3 linked regions of the Homo sapiens genome follow. The protein of the gene in region 3 purifies or fractionates together with the protein of the main gene of each other region. This does not show direct contact. Each region holds a gene or a part of one and is shown on either strand. Other genes may lie near its edges.

What was found.
Region 1: the proteins of BTNL8 (region 3) and ITGA8 purify together in Homo sapiens (affinity purification with mass spectrometry; 3 studies listed by BioGRID and IntAct, with this or other methods). This does not show direct contact.
Region 2: the proteins of BTNL8 (region 3) and TMEM131L purify together in Homo sapiens (affinity purification with mass spectrometry; 3 studies listed by BioGRID and IntAct, with this or other methods). This does not show direct contact.

What each region holds. Positions count from the first base shown.
Region 1 is NC_000010.11:15,639,801-15,643,453, forward strand, and holds part of ITGA8 (integrin alpha-8 isoform 1 preproprotein), read right to left. Parts: intron 1-3,653. UniProt on the Homo sapiens protein: Integrin alpha-8/beta-1 functions in the genesis of kidney and probably of other organs by regulating the recruitment of mesenchymal cells into epithelial structures.
Region 2 is NC_000004.12:153,584,856-153,588,508, reverse strand, and holds part of TMEM131L (transmembrane protein 131-like isoform 1 precursor), read right to left. Parts: coding exon 3,578-3,653; intron 3,052-3,577; coding exon 2,898-3,051; intron 2,301-2,897; coding exon 2,130-2,300; intron 768-2,129; coding exon 698-767; intron 1-697.
Region 3 is NC_000005.10:180,947,617-180,951,269, reverse strand, and holds the end of BTNL8 (butyrophilin-like protein 8 isoform 2 precursor), read right to left. Parts: coding exon 3,645-3,653; coding exon of another isoform or gene 3,515-3,644; intron 2,916-3,514; coding exon 2,895-2,915; intron 2,351-2,894; coding exon 2,324-2,350; intron 2,032-2,323; coding exon 2,005-2,031; intron 1,367-2,004; coding exon 726-1,366; 3' UTR 364-725; downstream 1-363.

The sequences.
Region 1 (3,653 bases), on a different chromosome or scaffold from region 3:
CCTGAACATTCGGATTTTTTAAAGCTTTCCACGTGATTTTAATATGCAACCAAGGTTGCGAACCCCTGTTTATAAAGGATGATGAGATAGATTTCAGAGGGAGGAAGTCAATTTGTTGAATAGATTGTGAAGCTCAGAAGGCACAGTAATCTGTGTTGTGCAAACCCTTATCAACTCCATTGGGGATGGCAGCATGTTCAAGAGGCTGAAAAACAGCCAGCAAGTGAGACATGAGGTTTCATTGAGGACCTACGTACAGGGCAGAGAGTCCGGGGGTAGAGGGCTGGGCAAGAGAACTGCAACCGCTTGCAAAAGGCATGCAGTTTATAAAGCATCTTCACTTAGTACTCTCCCACTGACAACCTCCACCTGGCAACCTTCATTTAATCCAAAAACAAAGGGCCTCAATCCCCTCTACGGCCCGTGTTCCACGGGACCGACCTGGGTGTCAGGTCTTCCTCATAGACAAGGAATGGATCTCTGGGCTGGCCACTCCCAGATTCCGTAGCTCAGATTTCCCAGCCACATTGGGGTGTGTGTGCCACCCAGGGTCATTTTGGGGTATGCTGATGTTATCGCTCTCAGGTGTATTTACTTCATAATTTGAAAGGCAAAGTGCTTTTGATTTGAAAAAGCAGGACCCCAGAGTGAAAGAAATTGTTTATCTTTTTAAGTTCCAAAAAGCACTGGTTTGGAAAAATCACAAAACAAGTCATGGAGGCCTAGAACGTAGCATTTACTGACTGAACTATAGGGTTTAGAAAGCATGCCATCCAACTACCTTTAGGGGAAAGAGGGCTTTTGTTACTTCCCAGGCAAAACATCACAAGACTGCAGCTCAATCAGGGGCTGGAGCAATGAGATGCCTGGGTGGAAACTGGCAACAGCTAAGGAAAATCTAGGTAGATAAGCCTGAGGGCAATCACAGAAACCTGAATACCCAGCCTGTGCGTGTCTGAGTCCTAACAGTGGCTCAGAAGCATTTGCTAAAAGGGGACTGAAAGAGGCTAACAGAGGACGAAGAGGGCCCAGGACACAGGGAAATTTTGAGCAGAGGTCACTACACAGACAATGGAACGAGCCACAGAAGCTTGAGCAATGCCCCAAAGGCCACAAGGGACTGAGCTACCCTTTAGTCTGAAGCCAATAATAGCAGATGATGGGTGTGAGCCAGATATCTCTTCCCAGTCGCTGGACAACAGGTAAACCCCTTTCTATTTCATTCCTTGGGAGGGTAGCTACACAGGGTGGAGAAAAAGAGTCTTTTTTCTGAGATGGAGTCTCGCCCTGTTGCCCAGGCTGGAGTGCAGTGGCGCGATATCGGCTCACTGCAACCTCTGCCTCCTGGGTTCAAGCAGTTCTCCTGCCTCAGCTGCCTGCGTAGCTGGGACTACAGGTGCATGCTACCACGGCTGGCTGAGGGGTCTTGAATCTGAATAAATACTTACCTAAATAAGACTAAATCTAAACATAGAAGTGATTGCAAGATCATCATTTTCTACCATGGTGGAAATGGAGGCTTTGAAAGCTAAATGGAATTCATTTCTAGAAAAATGAAGAAAGTTACATGTCTGATTCCTGAATTTGGCCTGCAGCTTTCAATCAACTGTAATAAGAGAATCTAGTCGCCTGCCTCTAAGGCAGTTTCTTCTCTGTAGGTCCTGGGATCTTGCTATGAAGTTAAAAAGGCTTCTTTGAATGGCATTCTTTTTGCTAGAGGATGAGGATCAGGGAAAAATGTTATAGAATCATGAATCACAAGATATCCATATTCCTATTTGAGAGACAGAATTGGCGCCAGAACCCAGGTCTACCAAGATGCATGGATGAACTCTGAAAGCCTCAAGACTCTTGAGGGATAAATTCAACCAAGCAGCATTGACGGGCCTGCCTTAGTAAAGAACATTTACTTCAGAGACAAGACGCACAGCACTGACATGTCTGATTATTATAATTTGCATCAGACTCAGCAAAGTTGTTGACTAGCACATGGCCTCAAGTGAATATTTCTGATTAAGGGAAGAAAAAGACATAATTAAGAGGTAATCGGCTGATGTGGTGGCTCACACCTGTAATCCCACCACTTTGGGAGGCTGAGGTGGGCAGATCACGAGGTCAAGAGATTGAGACCATCTTGGCCAACATGGTAAAACCCCATCTCTACTAAAACTACAAAAATGAGCTGAGTGTGGTGGCACACGCCTGTAGTCCCAGCTACTTGGGAGGCTGAGGCAGGAGGACCGCTTGAACCCAGGAGGTGGAAGTTGCAGTGGGCTGAGATCGTGCCACTGCACTCCAGCCTGAGGGCAGAGTAAGACTCCGTCTCAGAAAAAAAAAGGAAAAGAAAAAAAGAGGTAATCAATTACTAACATTGCACAGACTTTAGCTTCCTTTTCCCTTCCTGCTGCTTTTAAATTTTTTCTCCCTGAAGGGAGTATTCCTGGGGAGAAAAGTTGACTCATGCCTCTGTCCTTCCTGGCTCTCATTTGGGACGTGTTTAGCCTTGGAAGGAAGTCAAAGGACTGGCTATGTGATGGATACATCCTCTATTTCCTTTGCCTCATCAAAGGCACAGCCTTTCTGTCAATTTTCCTGGTACTAAGGGTGGGAAGGAGACCTATGACTACCATAATAAATAGCAGTAACTTTCTAATTGTTTACCTAAAATGCAACCCAGGAGTTGAATTTCATTAATCACCCTGACATTTTTGGGGTAGGAATTACATAAGGGACCTAGATTTTTGAATTATTTTAAATTTGGATATATTATGTATACAAACCTCTCCCCAGTAATAACAACTAACCACCATTGATTAGCATAATGTAACCTAAGAAAATAAATTTAACTAGATGTTCTTGAAATTGCCACAGGTAGGAAGCATTAGTATACGATATAATACCAAATCCACTTTGAGCCCACTATGACGTCTCCATTAGTGTCATAAAAGGTTTATGGCAAATTTATAAGAATATGTTGCGGTATCCTTTTTGTCTAATCCCAGAGGAGAGAAGAAAGCCAAAGGCCTGAAATTAATGATGTATATTTAGGCAGTCAGCTTACTGGATGCTGCCCCAAACCAAAAAATAGCTCTACATATGGAAAATTCCCAATCAGGGGAGGGGCTAGTGGAAAGAGACAAGGTTTTTATAAGTAGTTGAAACTGTCATTTAACTATTAATGACTTCTAAGTATTTATTGAAACCATCTTAAACATAAAAGTGAAAATCAAACCCTAAAACCAAGAAGTCTGATGTTCTCTGCTAAAAAACCTGGACAGTGAAATAATCTTTTAAGACAAATCAATGTCTTCATATAGCATGCACAATACATAAATTACCTGTGCCTCATGGCTTTCCATGTGCCTTCAATGTGAATTAGGTAAATCAAGAATAGTTATGGTTCCTATCATGAACCAGTTCTTTTTTTCTCCACTTTAAAATGTTCAGTCTATCTTTGGAAAACCACAAAATATGGCTGGAAGAGATACATATATTTTTTGAGACAGTCTCACTCTGTCGCCCAGGTTAGAGCTCAGTGGCTCGATCTTGGCTCAGTGCAGCCTCCGCCTCCCGGGTTCAGGTGATTCTTGTGCCTCAGCCTCTAGAGTAACTGGGACTACAGGCATGCATCACCATGCCCAGCTAATTTTTGT
Region 2 (3,653 bases), on a different chromosome or scaffold from region 3:
AGGGAAAACAGTAGTTCTTGAAAGGGGGCACAGACCAGGAGCCGATCCTAGAGAAGATGCATGTTTATAACTGGTCTATTGTTCACCTCATTCTACCAACAGATTTGTTCTGTCTTGCTAAGGAGGGTATCAGGAAGGAGAGGTGGGAATCTTTAAAAAAAAAAAAAAAAACTATACTTTAAAACTCTCCCTAAATATCTCTATAAATCAAAAGACAAAAAAAACAAAAAAAAAAACTCAAAACAAGAAACAGCTTGTACATCAACACTAAGGCCCTTCAGTCTCAAATCACAACTAGCACCATCTGCAAGATGTTTACACTCCTATAACTTAAGTCCTCAAATACAATTCCAAGTTATTTTTACTAACTTCTAGTCAGTTCTTTCATAAAAGAATCAGAATCTTCCAATTTTTCCTATGGGTGCTGTGATGATCGAACAATGTTATTTGAAAAAAAAAAAAAAAAACCCTTGCGGAAGTACAAGCTACTAGATAATAAAGGGGCATTATTTACAGTACCCCAGGTGTTTCTGGAGGGTTCTTAACAATTTTAAGTCATTCTGTTAATGATCATCCTCTCTATAGAATATGATGCCTTTACAGAACTAATTATTCCATTGACAAATGCTAATTTTCCTCACTATTTCCCATCCCCCAAACTAGAGATCTACAGAAAGCCTAAGGGCAAAATACTTACCTGCTTTTGATTTTCCCATGAAATAATGCATGCCACAATGTGCTATCACTTCAAAACCCAGACTCCCTTCCTAGATTGAAAAGTAATATATGAATAACTTAAAACACAGCACTAAACATAAAAATTCTAATGCACTAAAATTCAAAGCAGACATTGGTCTGCACCTCAGTGAACTTCCCTTTAACCACGAGCCAAAAATTACTTTCTAATTGTTAAGGAATTTTCAGAGAAATCTGAACTGTCTCTCCCTAGGAGGGTCACTGAGTGGCTTCTGCAGGCACAATAATCAATGACAATAATGACCCTTGGGCCCACAAGACACCAAACTGCCATCTGAATTAAATAAAGATTATGATCACATGGCTGCACTGAAGCCTGGGCAACAGAGTGAGACCCTAACTGTAAAAAAAATTAAAAATTAAAAAAAAAAGATTAGATTAGTCTCAGGACATTCTCAGTGGTCAGAAGTTTTGTTTTTTTTTAATTGAACTCTAATCCTCTGGGAAACAGTATGCCAATCTATAACAACTCCTAGCTATTCAGGACATTTAATTTCCCATTTCCTACAGGTATACCTGAAACCTGCCTGCTCCTCCCACACTCTGCTGACATGCATCTCTTGAATAGAAAAAAAATTTCTAAGAAACCACCCCTGCTCAAAATATGGATAAATGGAATTAACCTTACATTGTTTAATTTTAGAATTCCTATCTGTACGCTTACAGCTAGTTAAGCATGAGGCATTTCTAACTATGAAAGATCCACACTATAAGTGAGAAAAAAAATAAAGATGGTTGCATGAATGTTGCATAGAAAAACCAGAACCCAGAGTTATACAAAATAGCTTGGAGCAAAAAGAAGCAAAAATAATAACCAAATGAAAAGAAATAAATATTAAAGAAAGAGACATATTTAAGACGGTCTAAATTAAATATAATTTACCCAGATTTTAGAAAGCATTTTCTTAACTGTGAATCTTTTCAGGCTTTATACTTGGCCCACTAAGCAAATTCAAGGATTACGAGCAACTAAGAGTCACTTAGAAGAGATCCAAATAAAGCATTTAACAATTTAATTTATTAAGTCATTGCAAGTATGTACTAAAAGCCAACCTGTGTTTTCTATAGCAAACACATACTGGTTGCTCTACAAATTTTGGAAATAAATGAAAATGACATCTATTAATCTATTGGTCATGCCTTATTTCATTCAAGAACTTCAAATTACTTTATAAAAAAGAAAACTCTTTCCAAATAAAGATTTTTATGTCTGAACAATTTATCATCCAAGACTGGCCTGGTAATATCCTTCAGTTTCTTAGCCTTAAAGAACGTGAGCTTAACCCAGTTAATAAAACTCAAGCACTAAAGGTTAATAAAAAGCAACAGTAATTAAGAAAACTGTAACACACATATAGTATTGTAGAAAATACCTTGGTTGGTGCTGAATAAATCTGTAGAGGTATTGCAAAAATGGCACCTATGTTTGTAGTCAAAAATACATTGGTGAATAGATTTATGGCAATGTCTTTAACAGCAAGTTTCAAAGAAAATATATTCCAACAGCCTGGAGGTAGAAATAAAGGGCCAGTGAAATTCAGAATCTAAAAAGAAAAGAAGCAAGAGAAATTACTTTTCCTAACACTAATTATGATTAAAATCATTATAAAGTATGATGCTAACATTCTTCTATACTTCAGAAAGTATGATTTTACTCAGTTATTTCCAGATCAAAAGTTGGAATATTTTTATAGAAATGATAGGTTACAAATAATGCTTAAGATGACACTGTTTTAAATTTCACAAAAGTAATCTTGAAATTTCAGTAAGTGATATTTTGCAAAAAACCTACTATTTTATCATGAACCAGGCTCATTTTTACTAATCTTTTTAGAACAATACATATACATAATATTTTTGAATAATGGTAAGAGCAAATAATTTTGAAAGGCTATATCCTGGTCCCTTTGAGCTCTTTTAAAAACAGTTTTTTAAAAAGAGAGAAAGAGAAGTCTCCTAAAAGTAATTCTGAAAATGTTAAAAGAAAAATACATGTTTTAAAAATCATAAAATTTTATATAAATAATAACTTCATAGCATTTGGAATATTTTTTATTATTTTATAGAAATAATTTCACAGCATCTGACCTTAAACAAAGCTTAAAATAAGCTAAAACTTGGGGAAAAAATACTATATGTACCTTTAACATGTGCTTGGTCTCCTTGGAAAGAAACACATCATTTAATACAACACTACGGTCAAAATGGTTGCGGTACCATATTGACCAAAGTCCTGATGTGTTCTCATGAGTCTCTATGTGAAACTGGGTTGCAGAAGAGTCCATTCTAAAATACCTGTGAACAGACGACATGCATGCTATCAGGCCTGAGTGTGGGACAACAGTCAGCCCTCTTATGAGCCTCTAATTGCAAAAACAGGAGCATCATAAAACGTTACTAAATGAAAGCTAGCGCCAGAGACAACCTCGGCAATCGCCTCCTTCAACCTTCTGGCTCACATAGGGAGCAACTGGAAGCCCGAGGGGAAGCAACCAGGCTGCGGCCAGCACAGCTCACAGAGGCCGCCAGGACCAAACCAGAACCTGAAGCCAACTCAGAAACACCATGTGAATATGTACTCTTTTCACACATCTGGATGCCTGATGCTGAACCTATTTCATAAACTGAATTATTTCACTTCCTTTTCCCCACTCAGCTAATATCCCTTTCACTGCCTGTTAGCAATGCTAAGGCAAGGGGAGGCAAGGCCAGTGAGAGAGAGAATCACACAAATCATATCACTATATTTTTAAACCATTTCTAGAGGGGAAAACAACAACAACAACCATACAAGATTTCAGGGAAAGTGGAAGTAACCTACCCCTGAGCCACAGAAGAGAAGAGGCATGCTTTTAGTGTTGGAGTGTGTGTTGTTTTCTTCACATCTTCTATAATTC
Region 3 (3,653 bases):
AGTTTTCTTTTTCAGTTTGTTAATGTGGTTAATTAAACTGGTTGATATTTGAATATTAAGCCACATATGAGAAAAAACATATTTAGTAGTGATGTATTATTCTTTGAATGTATTGCTGGATTCAGTTTGCTAAAATTTTAATTAGAATATTTGTGTCTAAGTTCATGGGGGATATGGACGTGTAGTTTTCCTTTCTTTTCTTGTAATGTCCTTGTCTGGTTTTGGTATGAAAGTAATGCGGGCTCTATAGAATGCAATGGAAGTGCCACCTTCCCTCTGGCTCTGGCACAGAGCAGGTGCCTGTTTCATGGGTGATTTGAAGTAGGGAACAATAAATTCATGTGAAATAAACAAGCAAAGACCTTACTGAAAGTGTAATATAATGAACAAACCATTAGGATACACTCTGTCATCAATAAGATCTAAGCATTATTCACATTCCTTGTCTACTTAATCTACACCACAGCCTGTGAGATGGGAATTCCTGACGGTTCTTCACCTGAGAGGTGGTATTTCAAGATCACTTAGCCAGATGGAGTGAGAGCAAACTAAATGTAATGTCAGCCTTCTTCCCTCCCAGCTCAGGGCAGCCATGACACCTGACTCCCATGTGGACAGGCCAGTCCCCCTTCATCTGGAAGCCACCTTGGCCGGCTGCTGCGGGACTTTGGATCTGGGAGAGAGACCTTAATATCCCTAAAGAAGAATGTGGGATGTGATTCATCCTACATTTCACCCCTGGGGAGGAAGGGCGTGGTTGCCTGTGAGGAGGACTCACTGTTGCTTGTCTCTGGGATTGCAGAGGCCCTTTGCCAAGAGGCCTCTTTCTCTGATTCCTGGGTGACTGGGCAGATGACTATGGGAGTTCCATTTTGCTCATTATAGGACGGATACTCAATGTAGGGCCTCAATAAGCCTTCAAACCGACATGTCAGGGTATAAATAAGGGACTGGTCATTTATGTTGAAGAAGGAGATGGTCCCACACTCATAGTCCAGGAAGACCCCTATTTTTGTAGGTGGGGTCCTGGGGAAGACGCTGATAAAACGGGGATTTAATGTGAAATACAAATGTTCTCCATTCAGTCTGAGGACCCAGTACCCATGATCGGGAGACAAAGTCACGTACTCCTTCCTCCTGTCCACATCATCCCGGCACACTCCCACGCGCCACCTTTTATTGTGTCCTCCGTCCACCTCCCAGTAATGTTTCCCTGCTTGGAAACTCTGAGAAGCCACCACACTCTTCCTTGTAAATCTCTTCTCAGAGTGAGGCACCTCCTGGGGAGCTTTTCTATGGGTTACAGTTTTCAGATCAGAAACGCAGAGCTTCGGGTGAGCCGTCTCTGGATCCAGAGTCACCTCCACTGGGGTGCGGTGGGGGAGAGAGGAAGCATGAGTTACTGAAGACGAAATCTGGGCTGGAGCAAGAGGTCGACCCTCCCACTGCAGACTGGCTCTGGGTGGCATAGGTGAGGCCCCGGACCTGAGCCTCCCGCAGACACTGCCTTTCAGGTCCTCTCATCACCAGTGCAGCCTGGAGGACTCATCAATGTCTAGATATGTCTCAATATGACGTCCCAATCTCGGCATATCACCCAACCCTGCCACTGTCCCTTCATACATAAAACTATTTGATTCATAAGAGCTGGAGGGACCCCACTATCTAACTTCCTCCCACTCAGAATTTTCTGCCTGACTTTACTTCCTTCCCCTCAGCTCAGACCCCTGACCAGTCACTAGTGCCCTCAATTCCCTGAAACTGTGCCAAAGACCCCCCCGTCTCCCGTTTACCCAGCCCCTGTCTTCTCCCCTTCTAGACCAAGGGAAAGAAGTGTGTCTGGGGGCACTGAACCCTTGGGGGCGATCAAGCATCCAGTTTCTCCATCTGCAGGCAGGATGGGTCTCAGCATCACTCTGTGTTCCCGTATCTGTCCCTGTTCAGTTCCCCCTCTCATGTCCACCTGAGATTCTGTCCCACTGTCACCCTCTCAGGCGTTGGTACCTGCGTGTTTCCGGGCGTCTCTCAATTCTGAAAGCAAGCAGACAGAGCAGGCAGTTCAGTGCTCACGTGGGAAACAGGGCGCAGGGAGAAGGGAAAGACCAAGGATTGGGACCCTTTTTGAGTGTTGTGGACCCTCCAGAGATCCGAAGAAGGCTATGGGGCTTCTCTACAAAATGCACCTCCCCCAGAATCTGCAATTTCAGAGTTCCCATCACAAGCTTGGCTCTGCAGGGACCCACGGGCCTCAGGATATAAAAATCCATAAACGAGAGACTTGGAAAGGAGTCATAAATGTGTGAAGAGGAATATTTTCTTTTACCTGCCTGTCCGTGCTTTCTTCTCCAGTCTGAAAAACAAAAACAAAAACAAAAAACATGTAAGAGGCTGACGTCACAGAGCGGGGGCCCAGGGAGGGCGTGGGAGGGAATCCCTGCGAGTGGTAACACTCTCACCCAGTTTATCCTGGAGTTCCCACAAAACAAAAAGCAGACTATTTAGTGGTTGATACAGAACTGGATAAAGTCTCAAAGCATCAGGCCAGGGGAGGTCGAGGATCACCCACAAATTTTTCTCAGGTTCCTCACTGTGGCCCAGACACCCTCAGAGCTCATGATCAACACCTTCCCCCACCACACACACAGCAAACCAACGGGCAACAGGCACAGACAATTTGTGGGGACTTCCAGGCCCCGGGGCCTATCCTAAGCCCTCCAGATGTCCGAGGGGTAACTCATGAGCAGTGGATGGAGAGAGCGAGCAGCTGCTCTCCTCCACCTGCCGGTGCTTCCTGTCCAGCCTGCAGCCAGGGTCGTCCAGAGGCTCAAACTGTGGATCAGGGAGGGACCCGGGAGAACCATGTGTGGGAGGCTCAGGACATGACACATACTTACCCAGTTCCGCCTGGATTTTCCCTGAAACAGAAACAGTATATTCAGTGGTGGACACAGGAGTGTACAAGGCACAAACACGACGCTGGCTCCTTGCACAGGTGGGACGAGCTGCAGGTGTGAAGGGCAGGGCCTCTCCTAGGACACTTATATGTGCTCGTCTCCCCAGCTCCTGCACGGAGTGTGGCTCTCTGGGGTGGAGCAAGAGATCAGGAAGGTGCATGCTAAGGAGAGGGACAACAGCTGGGATGCTGTGGAGGTGGGGATGGAGATGGGAGAAGGCAGCTGGGAGGGGAGGCGGGGGTGGCCTCACCCCCAAGGGGAAGTGTCACTCCCAAGGAGGAGGAAATTGGTTTTGGGGGTGAAAAGTCTTATTGAGACTGAATATAATTTTATCTTATTGTCAGTCACTTTTGCTTCCTCCTTTATGAATTTGTTCACCACATTAAAACTTTTTAATAGGAGTCTTGGTGGTGTTCATGGAAAATTATCCAAGCTCTCTCTATAGGTACTGAAAATCATTCATCCCCTTATTATTTGACCTAAATGAAGTAGCAAGGGGCTGTCGTAGTTGATATTTCCAGAGGAAGAGATGTTAGAATACCCTAGAGAAGGATGATTACTTTTTTGGGCCTGGGCCCCTGGAGGCTAGGACTAGAAGAAGAGAAGCAGCTGGATGTGGGAGCATCTCTGATCCTGTCCCTGCTGGAACCATGAATAAGGCACCGGCCCATGCTTCTCTCTCTCGCTTACACTGGAATT